Homo sapiens: one gene and its partners. The protein of the gene in region 3 interacts with the protein of the main gene of each other region in a pairwise test. Each region holds a gene or a part of one and is shown on either strand. Other genes may lie near its edges.

Region 1 (7,024 bases), on a different chromosome or scaffold from region 3:
TGCCGGCCAGCAGGTCGCAGAGAGCCAGGTTGCCAATGAAAAAGTACATGCGGTTGTGAAATTTATTGTTTTTCCAGATGGCAATCAAAACCATCAGGTTCTCCAAGACGATGAAGCTGCAGATGACCAAGAAGAGCACGGTGGTGAGCGTGCTGCCCTCGGAGGCCTCCTTCAGCCTGCCCGCCAACTTCCCCACGTACTGGTAATGCTCCCGCAGGGTCTCGTTCCCCCGCACCGGCTGGAGACGCGGCGGGAGGGCAGTTGCCATCACTTGGCATTCACAGACGATTAGCTCCAAAATCCACGAGAGGGCGCCCCAGGAACATTCATTTCAAAGGGAAGCGGGGCTGAGGTTCCGGCTTCATTCAGCAAGGCGTGCAGGCCAGACTCCAGCGAGGGCGTTGAAAAAGGGCTCCTGCCAACAGATAAAAAGAGGGAGCGACCATTGATAAAACGATCGCCGCCTAAGGGGCCACGGCAACGCTGTTGGAGAAAGGCATGAAAAACGTGGAAGTACTGGGATGGCTAGCCACGTCAGGCTGCAGAGAGGGTCTTTAGACACAGGCTAAATTCCTAAGTGATTGGGGGACACCATGGGAAGCGATTTGGTGTCTGGAGTTGCCGGGAAGGGAAATTCAGTGCATGAATTATTGAATCCTGTAACAAAGATACACAGACCCAAGTACAGCTTCCATCTGGAAATCTCCAGGCACTAGAAAATGCTAACTAGTCCTCATCTAGGGCATGGGAGCTGGTGACCCATTATCCCAGTTACTCAGGGAAAAGCAGGATTTTCTCAGGACCAAAAAGCAGGATGGAATCTGAATGATGCCGGTTCAATTTCTAAAACCTCCCTGGTGAGTTTTACAGTGACATCGTGGGAAGATCCCGCACTTCCCAGATGGCATCCCCTGGATCCAGGCCCAGAAATCAGGTCTGTATGGGCTGTAGGTCGGCCTGGCAGAGAGCCCTGAGGCCTGACCATGCAGCCATCGAGGGACCAACAGTGCATGTCTGGGCAGTGCCCATGCAGACACCGCACTCGTGAGCAGTGAGTCCAGAGCCCAGCGAAGACAGAACATCAACCTGCAAAAACGGGACCCAAGTCTACAGATGATAAAGGAAGGACAGGAAAGCAGTGACAATCACACTGACTGAGTCTGGCTTGAAATTCAGAGCCCTGAATATCAAATAGAGCATGGGTGCATGTGAGCCAACAGAAAAGTGGCACATTTGGGAACACAGCGAGAGAGGGAAAGTGGTGAGTGAAGGCCTCAATGGATTCTGAATTCCAAACTCTTCCCCCACGAGACCTCAAACACTTGCACTCAACCACACCTGGTAATATCGATCAGCCTTCTGTGATGTTGATGACGCCACACACCCAACTATCAAGGTAGAAACCGCTTTCAGTGGACTCACTTATTTTATTTTATTTTTTATTTTTATTAAAAAAAATTTTCTTTTGAGACACAGTGTTGCTCTGTCACCCAGGCTGGAATGCAGTGGTGCGATCTCGGCTCATTGCAACCACTGCCTCCTGGGTTCAAGTGCTTCTGCTGCCTCAGCCTCCCAAGTAGCTGGGATTACAGGCACCCGCCACCATGCATGGCTAATTTTTGTATTTTTAGTAGAGACGGGGTTTCACCATGTTGGCCAGGCTGGGCTCGAACTCCTGACCTCAAGTGATCAGCCTGCCTCAGCCTCCCAAAGTGCTGGGATTACAGGCATGAGACACCGCACCCAGCCATCATTTATTATTTGAGTATTTAAATATGTAATTAAGTTCAAATGAGGCTAATTTAAAAGAGCCTACTGTGTGTATCCAGTGAATTTTTTTTAACTTTTACGATGTTTGAACCACAGCCCTAAATTTGCTTCAGAGACACATGAACAACTCACCAATACTATGGGCTCTGCATTTTAGGGTGTGATTGACTCTGAATCTCATCCATGCATGAGTTTATTCCCAGGTACAAATCAGTCCCTTGAAGATCCAGGGCTTGCCTGGGTGGGGCTGAGAAGCAGAGGTGGCTCCAAATGGTTTCTGTATCCTCGTGACCCTCTGGAGTGCTGAATGCTGTCAAAGCCCTCCTCTCCCTACATCAATTTGGGGGACCTGGATTTTCTGAGATGGCCCCTTGCTTCTTTGCAAAGATTTTTTTTCCAGTGTCCTGGAGCTTGGTGGTGTTGGTTGCTCTGGAAACCCCGGGGGCGGGGGGTTGGCGGGGGGTAGGATGTCTGAGCTGACGTCTGTGCTCTGCCTGGAACTGCCCTGACCCTTCCCAGCTGCCGCCTCCTGAAGTCACAGAGGCCTTGGGTCGAGGTCAGCTGGAATGCCAAGTGCTGGCAGAAAGGCTTATGTGTTGGCCAAGGCCCTCTGCTAACTGCAGAAAGAAAAAGCAGCCAAGTTCCAAGTCCAGGCTGATGATGCAGGATGAGAGGAGGTTGCCTGCCCAGATCTCTCCCATCACTCATGAGCCATGACAGGCAGCGCAGGGCCCGGGGCCTGCCTCCTCGAGCTGTGGCTCACCCATGCCAGCCCTACTTGGCTTCCCATTCACCTGAGAAGAGACCATGTCTTGCCTGTAGGTTCTCCTGGAGGCAAACAGGACAGTCCAGTGGGCAGCCTTCCCCCCAGCCCCTCCCTCTCTACCGTTTCTGAATTTTATTTAAATCTTGCCCATCCTTCAAGCCTCAAGTCAAATTCCACTTGCTCTGTAACATTTTCTGGAATCATGCCAGCCCCTGGTGACTTTTCTCTGAGGCTGCATGCCACTTCTGAAAACGTACTGCAAACTGTCTCTTTAAATGGGGCAATACCACAGTCAGCAGCATTTTCTGAGCATTGAGCTTATCCATTAACACAGGGACTTTCACCATGGGTAAGTTCACAGTACCCTCCCCAGCATCCTGTACACTGATGGGTGCTAAAAAGATACTGTCCTTTTAGTTGTTTTTGTTTGTTTTTTGTTTTGTTTTGTTTTGTTTTTGGGATGGAGTCTCATTCTGTCACCCAGGCTGGAGTGCAGCGGTGCGATCCCGGCTCACCACACCCTCCGCCTCCCCGGTTCAAGCGATTCTTCTGCCTCAGCCTCCTGAGTAGCTGGGACTACAGGCGCCCGCCACCATGCCCGGCTAATATTTGTATTTTTAGTAGAGACGGGGTTTCACCATGTTGGCCAGGCTGGTCTTGAACTCCTGACCTCAAGTGATTGCCTGCCTTGGCCTCCCAAAGTGCTGGGATTACAGGTGTGAACTACCACACCAGGCCTAGTATTGCTTATTATTTCTTTCTTTCTTTATCTGTGAACAGGAACTGGAGAATCACTATTTCTGATTTTCACTTTGCTGGGTTTCCACCCCTGATCAGGGGCCTCTCAGGGACACATGTGCTATGCCCGGCATGCACCCTGGCATGAAGCCGGGTATGAAGACAACCTGGGCCATCAGGCTGTCTCCTGCCACCTCCGGTACCACTGCACAGTGCTGATGGGGACCGCGAGGGCTCTGCCGTTTCCCACACGAACAGCCACTCATGCTCATGGAAAAGGCATGGAGCAAAGGCAGTCTGTGAACAGTGCCCTGTGCCAGCATCCTCCCTCCCATAGCAACTGGGGCCAGAGCCCTCACCATGCTGCCAAATGGATGACCTGCCCGGCTCACATTGCAACCAGAGGGGCCATCACCTGGCAGACAGCCAGCTATCCATGACACCACAGTGTCCTGGTTTATCCTACAGATTGCTGGGATACCCACTCCAGTATGTTGGGTTTCTGTCCCAGAAACCGACAAGCTGCAGACAAACCTTGGTTCCAATGTCAGTGATTCCTGAGGCCCCTTTTCCCCAGCTCACGTAGGGATTCAAGTACAGCTCCATGTTCCTCATCCTTTTAGGTAATACTGGCATGTCGTTATGATTCAGACTGTTCTTGTACTAACTCAGCTTGCCTCCTGTGCCTCAGTTTCCCCCATGACAACCTGACCCTACCATTTTATACATGTCCTGTCTCCTCTGAACCTTCTCCACACCTTTGCTTTTGCCATGCATCCAACAGCCAGATGTGGACTTGCTCCCGGGAATGGAGAGAAGAGGGTGAATAGACCCACGGCTTATACAAAAATTGATCAGAGCAGAAAACAAGCAAACAATTAAAAACTAATAACCAGCAATAAAATAACCCCAATAAACATAGTATAAGATTTGCCAGAGACCCATCAAAATCATGAATCTTGAGGGCAAACATATTTTCCCATTAATGTTTGATTTATCATTTCCCTTATAATTAAATATTCATCCCTCAAGAAGCATATTTGTCCAGAACATCTTTTGTTAAATATGATTCTCTGCATTTTGCATAAGTGGAAGATATCTGGCTGTCTTTGGAATCTAAAAGCTCATTTTCTCTGGATTATCAACATTTACAAAGCAGGCCTCATCCCAAGAGTTAAGTGCTGGGCTAAAGGCCAGATTGATTTTGGATGCGTCTACACATTATTGCGCACGGTTAAAAGCATCTCATGGACAAGAGTTCCCCTCCGCTCCTGAGGGGTACCAGCCACAGACCTCAAGTTTGCTAGAAGAAAGCTCAAAGCCCACCCCGCCCTGAGGCTCCTGGAGTCAGCAAGCCCTACTCAGGGCAAGAGGGGAGTCAGTCACTCTGGCGGATTGGTACTAACACTGCCAGGCACGGCAGGAGTGCTGGGCACTGCAGGCACCAGCAGGCCTGGGAGGCTGACCTGCCCCACCACACAGAGATCAGTGAGACCAGCACCCAGGCCAGCAACAAGATGGGCCGGACCCTGCAGCCTTCCTTGTGCCCCTCCTAGTCACCACCTGTCCCCAAGCATGACCACTACCTGGGATAGGACTCTCCCCTAGGTGAGTTTAGCCTGCTTCTGACCTTCACGTGAATGAAACCCTACAGGATACAATTGTGTCCATTGCTTTCCTCTCCCCATGATGCTTGTACGAGTCATGCACATAGATGCACCTGCATGCTGAATATTCTTGCTCTCATGGTGTGGGTAGATACACTACCCTCTATTCATTCTTGTTTATGGACATGGGGTAATTTCTTCCATGGCCCATGTGTTGATTATCATCAAGTAGCACTGCTGGGATTGATTGAGGATGTTCTCTTGGCGAACACATGTCCATGTTTTCGCAGGTCGATGTTGATTTGTGAGCGGTGTGTTGGTGTCTGAGATGGGCTTTAACCATGACTCGGAGGCACTGGGTTTCTCAGACCCCAGCCAGCCCATCTTGCAAAACTGGTGTGGGGAGAAGGGGCGGCCCCTAACAGAGGGCAAGACTGATGCAGTATTAGTGTTCACTCTTTGCTTTATTCCAAAAGTAAGTGTCCAGAGCTGGCAGTGACATTGTAAATTTGATCGCGGCTTAAATTCCACCTGAACACTTAGAAATAAAGCCAGATGCTGAGACATATGGCTTTTTGCAGACTAGTTTTGCATATATTCAGAGAGCTTGGCACATTACGGAAGACACAGGAGTACAGACAGCTGCAGGGTAGAGACGCTCCTCCTCATTAGCGGTGGTCTTCTAACCAATACAGATGCTGACACTGGGCTGCTCCCACTGCCCACCTCCACGGCACATCCTTGCCTGGTCGTTCCACTCTCTTCCAAGTGCTACACTAACACATCTCCCTGACCACCTGGGAAGACCCCCGCCCACCACCCAGCTCTTCAAGAGACTTAAGTATTTGATTGTCTGCATCTTCAGTCTTTTCATGTTTACTGAGAGACACTGCTTACATCTGAACTTACCTGAGTTCTACTCAATAAAGACCCCATTAGCTAAGGGTTTTCATGTCATCCTCACTAAGCTGGGTTCATCCAGCCTACCTCAAAGCATTTTAATACCAACACATTTTTTTTTTGTCGAGGAGGAATAAGACGCCTTCTGGAAGATGAGTATGCAGTGGATGACCCCAAGTTAGACCCTGCCAAGGTCAGAGGTGCCTACCTTCCCCCAACTTCCAAGGAGAAACATTGCTGGGAGGAGGGTGAGCCAGAGAGAGGAGGCCGGATGGATTCCAGATGTGCTTTCTATACTAGCGATTCGCTTTCTCTACCCATGTCAAGTTGAAAAATAAACAAACTATAAAAGGAAGAAAAAGAGAAAAAATAAAGAAAATGTTTCCACAGTCTGGTCTCCTTCCCAACACCCCCCTTTCTCTCTCCGCATAAAAGATAGGCACAATAAGATAGTAAGATAGCATCTTGGTCAGATGCAGGATGCTATATTTTTAATAGGCATGTACTCCCAGGGAAATTAACTAGTTCATCCTCCAAACTGAATCAAAACACCAAACATATGCCAACAAGCAAAATTTCTTGGAAAGCAAGATGTTTTTTAAAATTTCATTTAAAATAACTTGGAAAGGAAATAATGAGTCGGCCGTTACAAGGCTCCAGCAAAATTCCTTTGCTAATGAGTATTTTCCCTTGCTCTAGATTTCTTGGGTGACCTCGCTCTGCTTTTGGAGACAGTCCATTGCAAAATGCATGCTTCACACACCCAGCTGCACAGGCTTGGCCCATTAATGCAGCTCCCCTGAGAAATAACAACTGTTACAGACAAACCAGGTGAGGGTTTTGTATCTTTTCTCCCTTCTCTTCTTCAAAGCATGCAAGTCAGTGCACTTCCCTGGTTAGACTTACTGCTTCCCGGTGGCTTTTCCCCAAGTCCTTCTCCATCACAAATAAGGCTGGGACATTATGAGCTATCTGGGCATAGTCCAGGGAACCCCAGATATGGAGGCTGTGCCCCAGGAAACTCAGGCCCCGGCCCCGAGCATCTGCCTCCGTGAACACCATCCTGAGCTTCCAGACTTGTGTGTGGGAAGGCAAGTGCGTCTGAGCCAGGAGGTGTTTGACCGCTTTGCCTGTCCATGAGTCTTTTTAAACCTTCTCCATTCTGCTGCTGCTTCATGACAGCATAGGATAAATGATTCTCAAGATTTCCACAGGGATGAATCCACAGGGATGTGGAAATAGG
Region 2 (7,024 bases), on a different chromosome or scaffold from region 3:
TGGGCACCCCCCATGACCCTCCAAGTGTTAGAGTCCTTCTCCTGAATGCTCTGCGAGTCATACCTCTCACCTGCACGGCGACTGCCCTCACAAACCTCAGATCAGGCCTGCAACAGGGGCGGGACCTGGATTCTTACTTTTCTTTCACACTTGAGGAAAGCAGATAGAAGAGGATGCTCTCTGCATGGATTCATGAGAGGGAGGCCAAAATCTCCCCCTACCATCCCTGTCTCCCCTGTCATATATCCCTCCTACTGTCACTGTGTCTTGACAGCAAACTGTTAGAATCATTTAGGGCAGGGCTTTTCTCAACCTCCTGGGGATCTTGTTAGAACGCAGCTTCTGGCACAGGAAGTCTAGAGTGGGGCCTGGGATTTTGCATGTCTAATCAGATCTCAGGGGGACTCCAATGTGGCCAGTCCAGGGACAAGAGTTTGAGTAGCAAGGCTTTAGGGTGTTTTTGCACAGAATGATAGAGCTGGAAATGGTCTCAGAGGCCTTCCAGCCTCCTGAAATCCGGGCTGAGGTGTACACCCCACCACAGCATAATCACTTCCTCTCCTTTGACTTAAGCCAGTGGTCCCCATCCCAGTGTCCTGAAACCAGACAGAATCCGGGAAAGCCTCATGATTCCCAGCTTTTCAAAAATCCAGATGGAAATTCTACATTTCCCAGTCATAAACCTGTAACTATAGGTTTCTTTGCTCGGGAATACAATTACTTCCACTCAGCACACAGCAGGTCTTATCTCTGCTGATCAGGAGTGTGGACTTACAGCTCTAGCCAGCTTTGATGACTTAATTTACAAAATGGCAAAACAAATAAATCAATTCTTAATGAATACTGTTTGTTTGATATACAGAACCTTTCAAAGCAGAAGGTGGGAATGATGAAAGGGGATAAATAATGAAAGGAATCCTTGGTAATGAAATGGGTGGGAGCCGTGAGTCCTCCACCCACCACCCTCACCCCAGGCCTCTGACATGGAAATGAGTTGCCTGGGAGAGGTGTTGGATTAACTCCTTCTTATCTATCATCATCCAGGCTCCAAAATTGGTTTGCTGGGTAGGCAGGTGGACCTGGGAGGGAAGGGCTTCTGCAGGCCTTTCATAGAAGGTGCTTGGAGGCAGGGGCAGGTGCATCAGGATGACACTGGACCCTGGAGGGAAATGGAAGAGACAAGGTGGACCAAAGCAAGCACCACCATCGAAGGTGGGCTCTGGGACTGCTCAAGGCCCAGCTCTACTTCCCACGGTTTCCCTGGACTGGAGCTGGATACAGCTGTAACCACAGGTCTTTTTGCCCTTGAATACTTGCAAAATTCCCAGTCCTTTAGTCGAACAGGAATCATTAACATAAATCTATTTCCCTTCCTTCCTTCATTCCCGGGGGAAGAGGCTCTTCCTTTCCCATCAAGCCCTTGGTTAATGTTAGCAGATTTTGATATGATGATAACTAACATATATTAGTGGTTTCTGTATGCCAGACACTGTGCTAAGCCCTCCACACTCATTATTTCATTTGATCCTGACAACGACCCTTTTCTTGGTATTCCCATTTTACAGATGAGGACACTGAGGCTCAGAGAGTTTTAAGTCACTAAACCCAGAGTCACATAGCTAGTAAGTGAAGGGACAGGGATTTGAACAAGGCAATCTGACAGTAGAGACAGAACTTTAAAAAATTACCCCACACGTGGGTCTGACACCATCAAAAATATCACCTGTTGTTCAGCCTAGAAATCTTCTGTTAAACCCCATTATTAAGTGAACAATCACTCCCTAAGTTATCTGAATAGAAATGAAAGGCTAGTTCCAACACAAGACCCCATGTAGATCTCGCCTGGTGCCACATTCACTAAAAACTTCAACTCAGAACCAAGACTCACTGCTTGCAGGGAAGCTGGGGAGATTTAGAACAGGGAATCAGAGAAGACCTCCCCAGTCCTGAGGAGCAGAAAGTATGACGAGAGAGGCTGCGAGACATCTTTGTGGAAGTTATCTCAGGAAATGAGAATCAGAGCAGGCCTCCATGGAGACCAAGGCGAGCTCTGATGACCTGATTATCTTGAGAATCAATAGCAAGGAAGATCAGGATCGAGAAGTCAGCTCTGGTTATAAAAGGGTGCACTCAGCATGGGCGGGTGCAGTCCTGCCTTTGTGTGACATACCGTGACATTGGTGATGAGTGGCGGAGAGGCATAGGTCAACACTGAGGAGGGCCCCACCACCGTGTAGCTGGGGCACACGGGCTGCACATACATGTCAGCTGAGTAGGGGCAGCTGACAGCTTCATGGGGCACATACTCGGTGTAAGGTGTCCATGGGGCCAGGGGCTGCAGGGTGGCCGGGGTGGGCTGGGAGAGCCAGCCGGCACACAGGGCAGCCTCCTCTGTCACTGCAGACACAGAACCTTCCATGTCCAGGCAGGAAGGACCTGTGGGAAGAAGGAAATTACAGAACTTCAGATGCCACCCAGATGAGAGGCCTGGGGGCCACCAGGGCTACGGGGCACTCTTACCCACTGTGGTGTAGGTCGCCAGGGGCTGATGGGGCAGCACCACCTAGAGGGGAGAGGAGAAGACCAGGGTCAATGTTTAGCCCTCGTCAACCGGCCCTGTGCAGAGAACTTGCCCAGAGGGCCTCAGGGCAGGAGAATAGAAGATAGGAATCTCTCTGGTTAGAACAAAACATCCCACCCCGTATCCCAACCATCACCACCTACACTTGAGAGATTTGCGTTTCTATTTAGCAGGAAGTCTGTGCGCTCAGGGAGCTGGTGTCTTCTTCTTCTCAGGGGGGGCCCCCAACTCACACCAGGGTATGCAAGTCATTCGCTCACTCAGGCCTTGACAGTAGCTGTGTTCGGTGGGCCAGCTGAGCCGGCCCTGATCCCTCATCCCAGTTGCTCCACCCTAGCTCTATCCCTGGCAGCCTCCACCAAGGGACCTGCGCTCCTTCCTGCCTGATCCTTTTGGTCACCTCCCAAGCCATCTGCCTGCGCGCACACACATTCTCACACAAACACACACACTCTCTCACACACGTACTCTCTCACACACTCTCACACTCTCACACTCACACTCTCACACACTCACACACTCTCTCACACACACTCCCTCACACACATACTCTCTCACACACACGCTCACACTCTCACACTCACTCTCACACACACACACTCTCTCACACACATACATTCTCACACACTGACACATACACATTCTCTCTCACACTATCACACACTCACACACGCCATCACACACAAACACATACACACTCACATGCATACACTCACACACTCACACTCCCTCACACACACATACACTCTCACACACTGACGCAGATACACATTCTCTCTCACACTATCACACTCTCACACACTCTATCACACACAAACACATACACACACGCATACACATACTCACACACACATACACTCTCACACTATCCCTGACACACACATTCTCTTTCACACACACACACTCACACTCTCACACACACAAACTCTCACCGCCGTAGGTGCAGGTGCTGCCCCACTGCTGGCGTGGCCTCGCTTCCTCCTCAGCAGTTCCTTCACTGGCTCCTTCACACGGACGCCCTGGTATGGCCGGGCCGGGGCTGGGGCTTGCTCCGGAGCTGTGGCTGTGAAAAGCAATGTCCCTGGAGCCCATGGTCCTTCTCAGACGAGCCCCCACCCCAAAGTGCTCATTTCCTCATGGATCTGCCTGCTCCCCTAAGTCGTGCTTGAACACGGAGAACCACGTGACACTTCCTAGAATGCCTCTCCAGTATTGTCACTCCTCCTACTCCCAAACCTTCTGTGGGTCCCCTGCACCCAGACAACGAAGGCCCAGCTCCTTGTCCTAGAATTGGACAGTCTTCAGAATGAGATCCGAACCCATTTTTCTCACCACTTTGCACACTCCCTACTACACAAACCCTGTCTCCAACCAGAAGGTCTGTCTGTGTTCTCTACGTGTTCCTGCGTGTCTCACCTCCTCATCTGTGGTTGAGGTTTTCCGTGGTCAGAATTCCCTCTCACTTCTTCCAACCTCTTGATTCTTGCTGACACAAGACAAATGCAACCCTCCTGCCTGACCCCTGCAGCCTGAGTAATTTCCACATTCTACAGCTTCTCAAACATTTCCAGATCTGATTAGTATTCATCATAGGTGGCAGTAGAGGACAGCCATAAGAGCAGGGACTCTGAGCCAGATAGCACAGGCCTCAAATCCTGCCCCTGCCACCACCTTCCTGTGTGATCCTGGGCAAGTTACTAAACCTCTCTGTGCCTCTTAATCTTCAGTTTCTTTATCAAAGGAATATTGAGAGAAGTCACTTGATGTGGGAAATTGGTAGAACAGTATATGCCTCAAATAAATTCAGGTACAGGGTAGGCATTCAAAAAAATTCAGTCTATTATGTAATAGTTATTCTTTTTGATGGAAGTGTCTTATACCCACAACTAGATTATAAACGTCTCAAGGTGAGTTATTGTACCTTATTTCTCTATGTCTTCCCAGTGGCATGCCCATGCGTTTTAAGCTCAGTTGATACTTATTGATTAATCGATTGGGTGATTCTTTAAGACATGCTGCCATTTGTCTTCCCTTCACCTCTCCTACACCTTTAGGATTGAGGCAAGTGGCTCCCAGGTTCTCAGTGACTTTCAGGGCATGGGACAATTACCCAAGGGTGATCCTTGTACCCTGGGGCCAGACAGTGTCCACCTGCTGCTGAGGGAAGGTTTCCTTCCCCTCTTGCCATCAAAGCCAGGAAACCAAAGCATTGACCCAAATAAGAGCCAGTGCATAGGGCCCTTCCTGGCCTGGGAGAGCAACTGAAAAGCAGCCGTGGCTGGGAAGCAACAAGCTGCCCACCTAGACAGCCTGTGGCCTAGGGATCCTGGGCTCTCAGAGAGCAGGCCTGGGTCAGCCAAGAAACACTAGACCTTAGGACTTCCACAGGGAGCCCATTATTATCCACCGATAAGGGCCCCAGGGACCTGGGCTCTGAATCAAAGTCCCGGAAGCCTAGGTATCTGTTAAACCCGGATCTGCAGCACTGCCCTGGTTGAACTTTGCTCAGTAAATACCCAGCTGATAAGGTCCCATGCCTGACTCGGCACCAGACCTCCCTCCAGGCTCCAGCCACGAGCAAGGCCTGGCCTTGAAGCCCAGAAGGCAGAGAGAAGCTTGGGCAGAGGCAACAGGAAGTGGGAAATGAGTCCCAGGGGCAGATGTTGGGGGTCAGGAATCCCAGTATCTCAGGTGGACTTTAGACCCATCCTCCAAGGTCCCTCAGCTGGCCAGGTAGCAAATCAACCAGGAAATGATGCAATATACAGGTACAGGTCCTGCTCCAGGAAAGTCTGATTCTAGGGGGCTGATATAGGCCTAGGAATCTGTATGTATAAAAATCTCTCTTGGGAGGCTGAGGTGAGTGGATCACAAGGTCAGGAGATTAAGACCATCCTGACCAACATGGTGAAAGCCCATATTTACTGAAATACAAAAAATTAGCCAGATGTGGTGGCAGGCACCTGTAATCCCAGTTACTTGGGAGGCTGACTCAGGGGAATGGCTTGAACCTGGGAGGTGGAGGTTGCAGTGAGCTGAGATCACACCATTGCACTCCAGCCTGGCAACAGAGAGAGACTCTGTCTCAAAAAAAAAAAAAAAAAATCTGTCCAGTATTTCTGAAAATATACTGGGATTACAACTGCTGATAATCCATTCCTAATTTAACATAAGAATCTCCCGATAACATCCCAATAGGAGATTCATTATCCTTATTTTAACTTCCCCTGTCTGAACAAGAGATCTCTACTGGTATTCATTCATTTTTTCAAATATTTCTAGTGCCTAGGAGTACAGCACTGCACAGGACCCATGGAGCCCCCGCCCACGTGGATCTTGCAGTCTAACGGGGAAGACAAGCAACAAAAGTTACCAGCAGATGAATGTGTCACAACTTGTGAAATTCAGGCTGCTATAGGAGTGTCTAGCAGGGGAACCAGCCTGGTTCTGTGCCCCGGGGCCACCTGTGCGCCTCCACCTTTGCTCTGAACACCAATGACAGTAGACTTGAGAACCACACATACCTGTATTCAAATCTGGGCTGTCACTTACTGGTGGAAAGTTCTTAGATTTATTTAATGTCTCTGGGCTTCAATTTCCTCATTTGTAAAACGGGAATAATAATTCTTCTCTCACACAGTGGTTGTGAGGATTAACCAAAATAATACATGGGGAGCTCCAAAGGCCATGTCTGGCATAGGGTAGATGCTCAATACATGTGGTTTTAATTATCTTCCTTCTGGCCATTTCCACCTTCCTTTCGGGGGGATATTATCATGTCAGACAGCTCTTCCTCCTACTGAGGCTAACTTATGGTAACACATGCCATATTTCCCTCCATTACCTTCTAATGAAACTCACATTTCTTAGTCCATTTACAGCTGTCTCATCTATAAAGTGAAGATCATAATGGTATGTATGTTGTAGGGTAATTTAAGATTTGCATGTGAAGTGCTTGGAATAGAGTTTGGCACAGAGCATTTAATACATGTGAGCTCCGATTATCATGAGTATTAGTAGTAATATTCCCTTCCGAAATCTGAGGACAGATACCAGGTGTCCCCCTAGGTCTGAAGGGACTTCTCATTCCTTCAGCTATTTCTAAATGACATGGTTTTAGTCTCCCCACCTTCCTTCTGGGTGAGTCACTCTTGCACAAGTTCCATTTGCCACTTTCCCTACTGCTGGGTGGTGCCCAGCGATGACCACAGGCCCCAGGTACAATCTGACGTGTCAGCGAACAGGGCACCTGCCCTGCCACACTCAACTCACTCTTTCTCAGGGTCACCCCATGGCCACGTCAGCATTTTTGGTTTTAATCTTTATGAGTACATAGTCAGTGTATATATTTATGGGGTACACAAGATATTTGGATACGGGCATGCAATGCACACTCATCACATCAGGGTAAATAAAGCACCCATCCCCTCAAGCATTTGTCAC
Region 3 (7,024 bases):
GCCTCTCAGCCCCAATTTCTCCATCTGTCATAGGGCATGGTGACCTTGCCCCACTGACCTCATGGGGTGATGGGGGGCGGGGAAATGGAGTCACGTGGACATGCTGTGGCGACAGCACAAAGAGGAACACTGAGCTAAGCAGAGAACGGATGCTGGCAAGGGCTGAGCTGGGGGCTGGGGCTCCAGGATGACTCGGGCTAAGAGCTCATGGGTGTCATCATCATTACTGTCACTCCGGAAGCTGGATGGGGTTGGTGTGGGTCTTGCCAAGGTGGGGGTGGGGGCGATGGTGCATGCTATGGGTCAGTCCCTTCTGAACTTCACTAATTTAAGCTTCAGCTCCACTTTCTGAGGTCAATTCTATGATCTTCATTTTACAGATGAGGGAACTGAGGCATGGAGAGATTAAGTAATTTGCCCAAGGTCACAGAGCTGGGACCAGAATCCAGACAGCTGGACTCTACGGGCTGAAGCCTCTGGCTAGAAAGCTGCAGGAGTGGGGATGGTGGGTGGAGAGGCTGGGGACCCTGGTGGGGGTTGGGGACCCTGAGGAGGACCCTGATGGAGGGTGGAGACCCTGTCAGAGAGGGGACCCTGGTGAGGTGGGGACCCAGGAGGGGGTTGAGGACACTGGGGAGGTGGGGACCGTGGTGGAGGATGGGGACCCTGTTGGGATGGGGACCCTGGGGAGGTGGGGACCCAGGAAGGGGTTGGGGACCCTGGGGAGATGAGAACTCAGGCGGGGACTGGGGACCCTGGTGGAGGGTGGGGGCCCTGTTGGGGTGGGGACCCTGGGATGTGGGGCCTTGGGAGGCACCCTGGGTGCTCACCTTGCAGCAGGCACAGTACTTCCAGCATAGCAGCAGTAGCAGGGCCAGGAGCGGCAGGAGGAGGAGGAGCAGGGGGATGAGCCACCAGAAGGAGCCCGGAGGGCAGTCTGGAGAGGAGGAGGCAGGGGGAGGTGGTGCCTGTCCTCCCCACCGAGCTCTGGCCACACGCCCCCTCCCTGCGCCCGGCCCCACCAGCTCACCCTTCTTCTTGTGCACCAGGACAGTGCTGTTGGGCCCAGGGGCGCCGTCACCTTCCATGGTGTAGCTGTAGGTGCAGTCGTCATCCTCGTCCCGGAAGGAGCAGCGCACCACCACCTCCTCGGCTGTACCCACAGCCAGTCAGCAGGGCACCCCAGCCACACCCCTCCGCCCCAGAGGACCCAGGGTCTGGTGAGGGGGCCCCTACTCTGCGATCTGCCTCACCCACGGCAGGGCCTCCTGGGGAAGAGTGGAAGTCCTTGCAAAGCCGTGCTCTCACCAGGCACAGGAACGGGTGTGGTGGGGGCTCCCCTGCTCAGGAGCATCAGAGCCTAGAAACCTACCTCCCCCACTTCCCTGACCTGGACATCACCCAGGAACTCAGGGTCCAGAAAACGTATCTGATCTCGAGGAGGGGAGGCTGCGTGTCTCCACAGCGTGACCATGTACCCCTGCTGGGTGCATGCCCCTGCCCAAGTCAGGTGCCTCCCACCAAGACTCTTGGTCCCTTCCTGGGCCAGACTGTGTCCCACCGCCTGGGTTCTGTGCCTCCTGCTCAGGCTTTTACCCTTTTCTGGGATTCGGTGTCCTCTATCTGGGTTCTGTGGTCCCTCCCAGCTCTGGAGTTCCTGTCCGGACTGTGTGACCTTAGCCCAGACTGCAAGCCCCCGTCCAGGTGATGACACCCTTGCCCCGTTGGATGCCCGCTGCCTAGGCTCTCAGCAACCCCAACCCTCAGCCCCTGCCCCTACCTCTCTTAAGCTCGTCCACCATCTTGACCTTGAAGTTGCATTCCTCACACGTGCGCCCCTTCTTCTCGCCGGTGCCCCACGCCTGGCACTGCACGCAGGAGCGTAGGTCCTCGCAGAGGCCCGGGTGGATCTTGGCGGGGAAAGGCGGGGCAGACAGGCACTGTGTTGGGTGGGCCTCTGCCAGACCCCCGCTCCCCAAACCTCTTGCCCTTGGCCAGCTCCTGTGGCATCAGGCTTAGCCCCTCCTGCCCACACTGCCCTGTGCCTGCCCTGTTCCCACGCCCACACCTCGTAGGTCTTAGCCTCACCGCCGAGTAGTTGATCTCGCAGATGGTGTCCGTGTAGAGCGACTGCTGGTGGCAGTGGCAGCGGCCACACTCACAGTGGCCACGTCCATTACAGATGCCCTGGGGTAGGAGGGGGCACCAGTGAGCCAGCTGTGCCCCATCCCTGCCTGCTCCCTCTCCTCTCTCCATAGGGTTCTCTCTGGAGAGGGTGGGTGGTGCTGACAGACACTGTCTGTCTTATGCCCAGGCCTACCCCATTGCTGTCGATGCAGGTGGCATTGCTGAGGGGACAGTCACAGCTTGGGCCTGTCCAACCAGGCTCACACACACACTGGCCCATGGAGCAGCGTCCTCGGTCTGCAGAGAGGGACAAGGAAGGGAGATGAGAGCTACATCTGTGCCTGTAGTCCAGGCTGCCCACCTGGCAGGGAGGGCCTGTGGGAACAGAGCTGTGGGAGCCAGGGTGCCGCTAGCCTGGGGTAGAAGTCATCTCTTCCTCACTTTCCTGGAATCTCCTTCCCTCCATCTCTGCCTCCATCCTACCTACCTTCCACTCTGCAGCCTGAGTAATTATCTCAAAACAAATCCAATCATGTGGCTCCTGCTCCCCTGGCTAAGAACCTCTAATGGGTCCCTGCCAATGCAATAAGGTCAGAAAAAGAAATAAGATGTATAAGCATTAGAAGGTAAGAAATAAGTCCAGGCAAGGTGGCTCACGCCTGTAATCCCAGCACTTTGGGAGGCTGAGGCGGGCAGATCACAAGGTCAAGAGACTGAGACCATCCTGGCCAACATGGAGAAACCTCGTCTCTACTAAAAATACAAAAATTAGCTGGTCATGGTGGCGCATGCCTGTAGTCCCAGTTACTCAGGAGGCTGAGGCAGGAGAATCACTTGAACCCGGGAGGTAGAGGTTGCAGTGAGCCGAGATCACGCCACTGCACTCCAGCCTGGTGACAGAGCAAGACTCCGTCTCAAAAAAAAAAAAAAAAAAAGAAAAGAAAAAAGAAATAAAACTGTCAGCCGGGCGTGGTGGCTCACACCTGTAATCCCACACTTTGGGAGGCCGAGGCGGGAGGATCACTTGAGCTCAGGAGTTCAAGACCAGCCTGGCCAACATGGTGAAACTCTATTTCCACTAAAAATACAAAAATTAGCTGGGCTTGGTGGTGGGCCCCTGTAATCCCAGCTTCTTGGGAGGCTGAGGCAGGAGAATTGCTTGAACCTGGGAGGCAGAGGTTGTAGTGAGCTGAGATCATGCCACTGCACTCTAGCCTGGGTGACAGAGCAAGACTCCGTCTCAAAAATCAATCAATCAATCAATCAATAAAATTGTCTTTATTTGCAAGTGTGAGGAACATGTCACAAAGTATCCAGAAGAATCTACAGACAAATTATTAGATTTCATAAGTGCGTTTAGCAAGGTGACTAGATACAAGGTTAATATGCAAATAGTTAGAAAATGAAAGTAAAACCTCCAGTGACCCCCTTTTGTCCAAAGGATGAAGTCCTGCTCTGGACTAGAACCGAAGCCCTTTGTACTCTGGCCCTGCCTCCTTCCCCAGAGGCACCTTCCTCCCTTCCTCTCTCATACCTCCCTCTGTGCCACTTGTCTGCCTTTCTCCAGTGGTGCCCAGTTCTCTCTTCTGTTTCTCTGAGCACACTCAGGGACAGACAGTCGAAGAGAAGAAATGGTGAACAAAAGCAAGAACAGAAGAAAGAGTAGAAAAGCAGGGGCTTGGAAAGTATACAGTGAGGGCTTCATAAGTATTTGATGAGTAGATTTTCATTCATCCTCCTCCATTCAACTACCAATCCTTCCCTATGTCCCCTTGTCTGAGTTCTGTGATCCTGCCCAGCTCTGATGTTCCTGGCCAGACTGTATGCCTATGGCCTGGACCCATGGGAATACAGAGGAAGCTCCAGGCCTTCCAGGTAGAAATTTAGCATCTTTGGGCCGGGCTCAGTGGCTCACACCTGTAATCCCAGGTGTGATTACAGATGTGTACTTTGGGAGGCTGAGGCGGGCAGATCACCTGAGGTCAGGAGTTCGAGACCAGCCTGGCCAACATGGTGAAACCCTGTCTCTACTAAAAATACAAAATTAGCTGGGCATGGTGGTGCATGCCTATAGTCCCACCTACTAGGGAGGCTGAGGCAGGAGAATCGCCTGAACCCAGGAGGCAGAGGTTGCAGTGAGCCAAGATTGTGCTATTGCACTCCAGCCTGGGCGACAAGAGTGAAACTCTGTCTCAAAAAAAAAAAAAAAAAAAAAAAAAACAGCAGCAACAACAACAAAAAACCCACAGAAATTTAGCATCTTTGGAGAGAGGAAAGATCATAATGCCATATACCTGCCAGCCATTGGAGGGCTGAGCTGGGTGGCACCCACTCTAATGAGATAGGGGTGTGGAGAAGTGGGGTGGGCATAGAACTGAACTTCCAGAGAGAACCTCAGGGGAGTTGGAATCTTAAAACCAGGGGAAAGTCCTGCCAACAGTGACCTTGGGCATGGACGTTACAGATGAGGGAAGTCAGGCCCAGGTTGGGGCAGGACTCAGGGGCGGCCCTCAGGGCATCCAGAGTGGGCTGGGCCTGAACTTGGGGATTCTGATTCCAAGTCTGGCTCTCCCAACCTGGGTCCTGACGGGAAAGTCATGCTTGCTGTCCACTCCCTACCCCGCCATCAGCATTGGCCGCAGTTGTTGTGCTCACCATTGCAGAGGAACCCGGAAGTGCGGGGACACTGGAAGTTGTCATACTCGCAGAACTGACCCTCGTAGCGGCCTTCGCCGTAGCACACACAGTGCCCGCACTGGCACTCCCCACGGCCGGAGCACGGCTTGTCCTCGCCCTCCCGCAGGCAGGGCTGAATGTCACTCAGAGAGCCGGTGGAGCAGTTGCAGGTCTGGCCACTCCTGAAGGAGGAACTGGTCATTCCCCGAAACAGCCCAGGAGGAAAGCTGGGGCTTTTGCTGTCCCATTTAATTTAATTTAATTTAATTATTTTATTTTTTTTTTTGAGACGGAGTCTCGCCTTGTCGCCCAGGCTGGAGTGCAGTGGCGCGATCTTGGCTCACTGCAAGCTCTGCCTCTTGGGTTCACGCCATTCTCCTGCCTCAGCCTCCTGAGTAGCTGGGACTACAGGCACCCGCCACTACGCCCGGCTAATTTTTTGTATTTTTAGTAGACGGGGTTTCACCATGTTAGCCAGGATGGTCTCGATCTCCTGACCTTGTGATCCGCCCACCTCGGCCTCCCAAAGTGCTGAAATTACAGGCGTAAGCCACCGCGCCTGGCCTATTTTATTTTATTTTTTTTCAAGACAGAGTTTCGCTCTTCTTGCCCAGGCTGGAGTGCAGTGGCGCGATCTCAGCTCACGGCAACCTCCGCCTTCTAGGTGCAAGCAATTCTGCCTCAGCCTCCCGAGTAGCTGGGATTACAGGCATGCACCACCACGCCCAGCTACTTTTTTGTATTTTTAGTAGAGATGGGATTTCACCATGTTGGCCAGGCTGGTCTTGAACTCCTGACCTCAGGTGATCCACCCACCTCGGCCTCCCAAAGTGCTGGGATTACAGGTGTGAGCCACCTCGCCTGGCCTGCTGTCCCATTTTACAGATGAGGAAACTGAGGCTCTGAGAGGGCCGAGGCAGCTCCCAGTCATGCAGACAGAAGTGGCTGAGCTGAGACCTAAACCCCAGTGCCCTGTCATGTCACCCCTTCCAGTGTCCTTTCCCCACTGCTCTGCCTCAAGTTGTGGCAAGCTCGCCCAGTGTCCTGAAGCTAAAGCCCTTACTGCCGTGCATTTACGAGCTCTCTTCTGATCAGGCAATATGACACAGGACTCAGAATACCAAAGGCATGGAGCAAAAAGGAAGCCTCGTGTGCCTGTCCCCCAAGATCCAGACCCCAGCCCCAACAGCCAACCCCGTCTCAATCCTCACACCTCTTTCTAGAGACAGCCCATATATCTCTGTATTTCAAAGTGCTTTGACCTGGGTTTGACCAACAACTGGGTGTGCCCCGCCCTTAGCCGTTTCTTTGATTGCCGCCCCACCCCCAGCCAGGTGTACAAGGTGCACCCAGGGCCAGGCCCCTGCAGGAGCCCAGCTTTCCCATCAGGGGCCACTGGTGTCCTGGGTGCCCAACTCCCTTCCCCACTCACCAGCCCTCGCTGCACACACACTGTCCGCACACGAAGTCTCCGTTGAAGCTGCAGCGAGCTGACCGCACCTCTTTTTGCTGGAATGAGAGAGACCATGGTGGGGTGCGTCGGGGGAGCAGGACCGGGGCCACTGGACACTTCCGCTCTCCTGTGTGCCTCGGGAAACCCCACAAGGGATATGGGGCACAGGAGTCCTGCTTCATTCCTCAGGGTCCCTGGGTGCTTGGCTCAGCTCTCCCCTCCCGCCCTGCGGGGCTGCGTTGTACCAGCTCGCAGGTGCACACATCACAGATGATGCCCGCGTCCATCTTGAGGCCGTCGGAGAAGGAAGGTTTCAGATGGATGTTGCCCTTCTGGTCCTCCGGCAGCTGGCACACGTGCGTCCCATCCACGTGCTCAAGGGCCCGCAGCTGCACCTGGTATATACCCTGCAGGGGCCCCGTGGTCAGCCAAGGCAGGCCCAGCCCCAAGGACCAGGGGGCCATCGATGCCTGAAGGCCCTCGGCCCCCAAGTTCCTAGGAGATGTCTGGATCCCTGAAATGAGCTCCTGCTCACCTCCCTCAGGGCTGGAAACTCCCTCCTTCCCAGCGCAGTCACAATCATAGCGACAATGACAGTGGCCAGGGCCTCTGGGCTTCGTGACACTAACCCATTTACTGCCCCAGCAAGCCTCCGGGCTCGACGCTTGCATGCCGAGGAAACCAACAAGCAGAGGAGCAACCTAGGCTCATCCGAGCGGCTAGGCCCAGGGATCTGCACCCAGGCCTGCCTGACTCCAGGGGCCACGC

Evidence for each region.
Region 1: the proteins of ITGB4 (region 3) and S1PR3 interact in binary tests that used the Homo sapiens proteins (3 or more experiments, as listed by UniProt).
Region 2: the proteins of ITGB4 (region 3) and POU2AF1 interact in binary tests that used the Homo sapiens proteins (3 or more experiments, as listed by UniProt).

Annotation. Positions count from the first base shown.
Region 1 is NC_000009.12:88,994,445-89,001,468, reverse strand, and holds part of S1PR3 (sphingosine 1-phosphate receptor 3), read right to left. Parts: exon of another isoform or gene 5,327-7,024; intron 416-5,326; 5' UTR 269-415; coding exon 1-268. UniProt on the Homo sapiens protein: Receptor for the lysosphingolipid sphingosine 1-phosphate (S1P). S1P is a bioactive lysophospholipid that elicits diverse physiological effect on most types of cells and tissues.
Region 2 is NC_000011.10:111,355,275-111,362,298, forward strand, and holds part of POU2AF1 (POU domain class 2-associating factor 1), read right to left. Parts: intron 4,117-7,024; exon of another isoform or gene 3,998-4,116; intron 3,645-3,997; coding exon 3,514-3,644; intron 2,564-3,513; coding exon 2,521-2,563; intron 2,437-2,520; coding exon 2,171-2,436; intron 1,160-2,170; coding exon of another isoform or gene 1,142-1,159; exon of another isoform or gene 1-1,141. UniProt on the Homo sapiens protein: Transcriptional coactivator that specifically associates with either POU2F1/OCT1 or POU2F2/OCT2. It boosts the POU2F1/OCT1 mediated promoter activity and to a lesser extent, that of POU2F2/OCT2. It recognizes the POU domains of POU2F1/OCT1 and POU2F2/OCT2.
Region 3 is NC_000017.11:75,731,451-75,738,474, reverse strand, and holds part of ITGB4 (integrin beta-4 isoform 1 precursor), read right to left. Parts: intron 6,664-7,024; coding exon 6,502-6,663; intron 6,313-6,501; coding exon 6,236-6,312; intron 4,986-6,235; coding exon 4,783-4,985; intron 2,425-4,782; coding exon 2,321-2,424; intron 2,188-2,320; coding exon 2,089-2,187; intron 1,911-2,088; coding exon 1,781-1,910; intron 1,739-1,780; exon of another isoform or gene 1,254-1,738; intron 1,154-1,253; coding exon 1,031-1,153; intron 938-1,030; coding exon 831-937; intron 1-830. UniProt on the Homo sapiens protein: Integrin alpha-6/beta-4 is a receptor for laminin. Plays a critical structural role in the hemidesmosome of epithelial cells. Is required for the regulation of keratinocyte polarity and motility.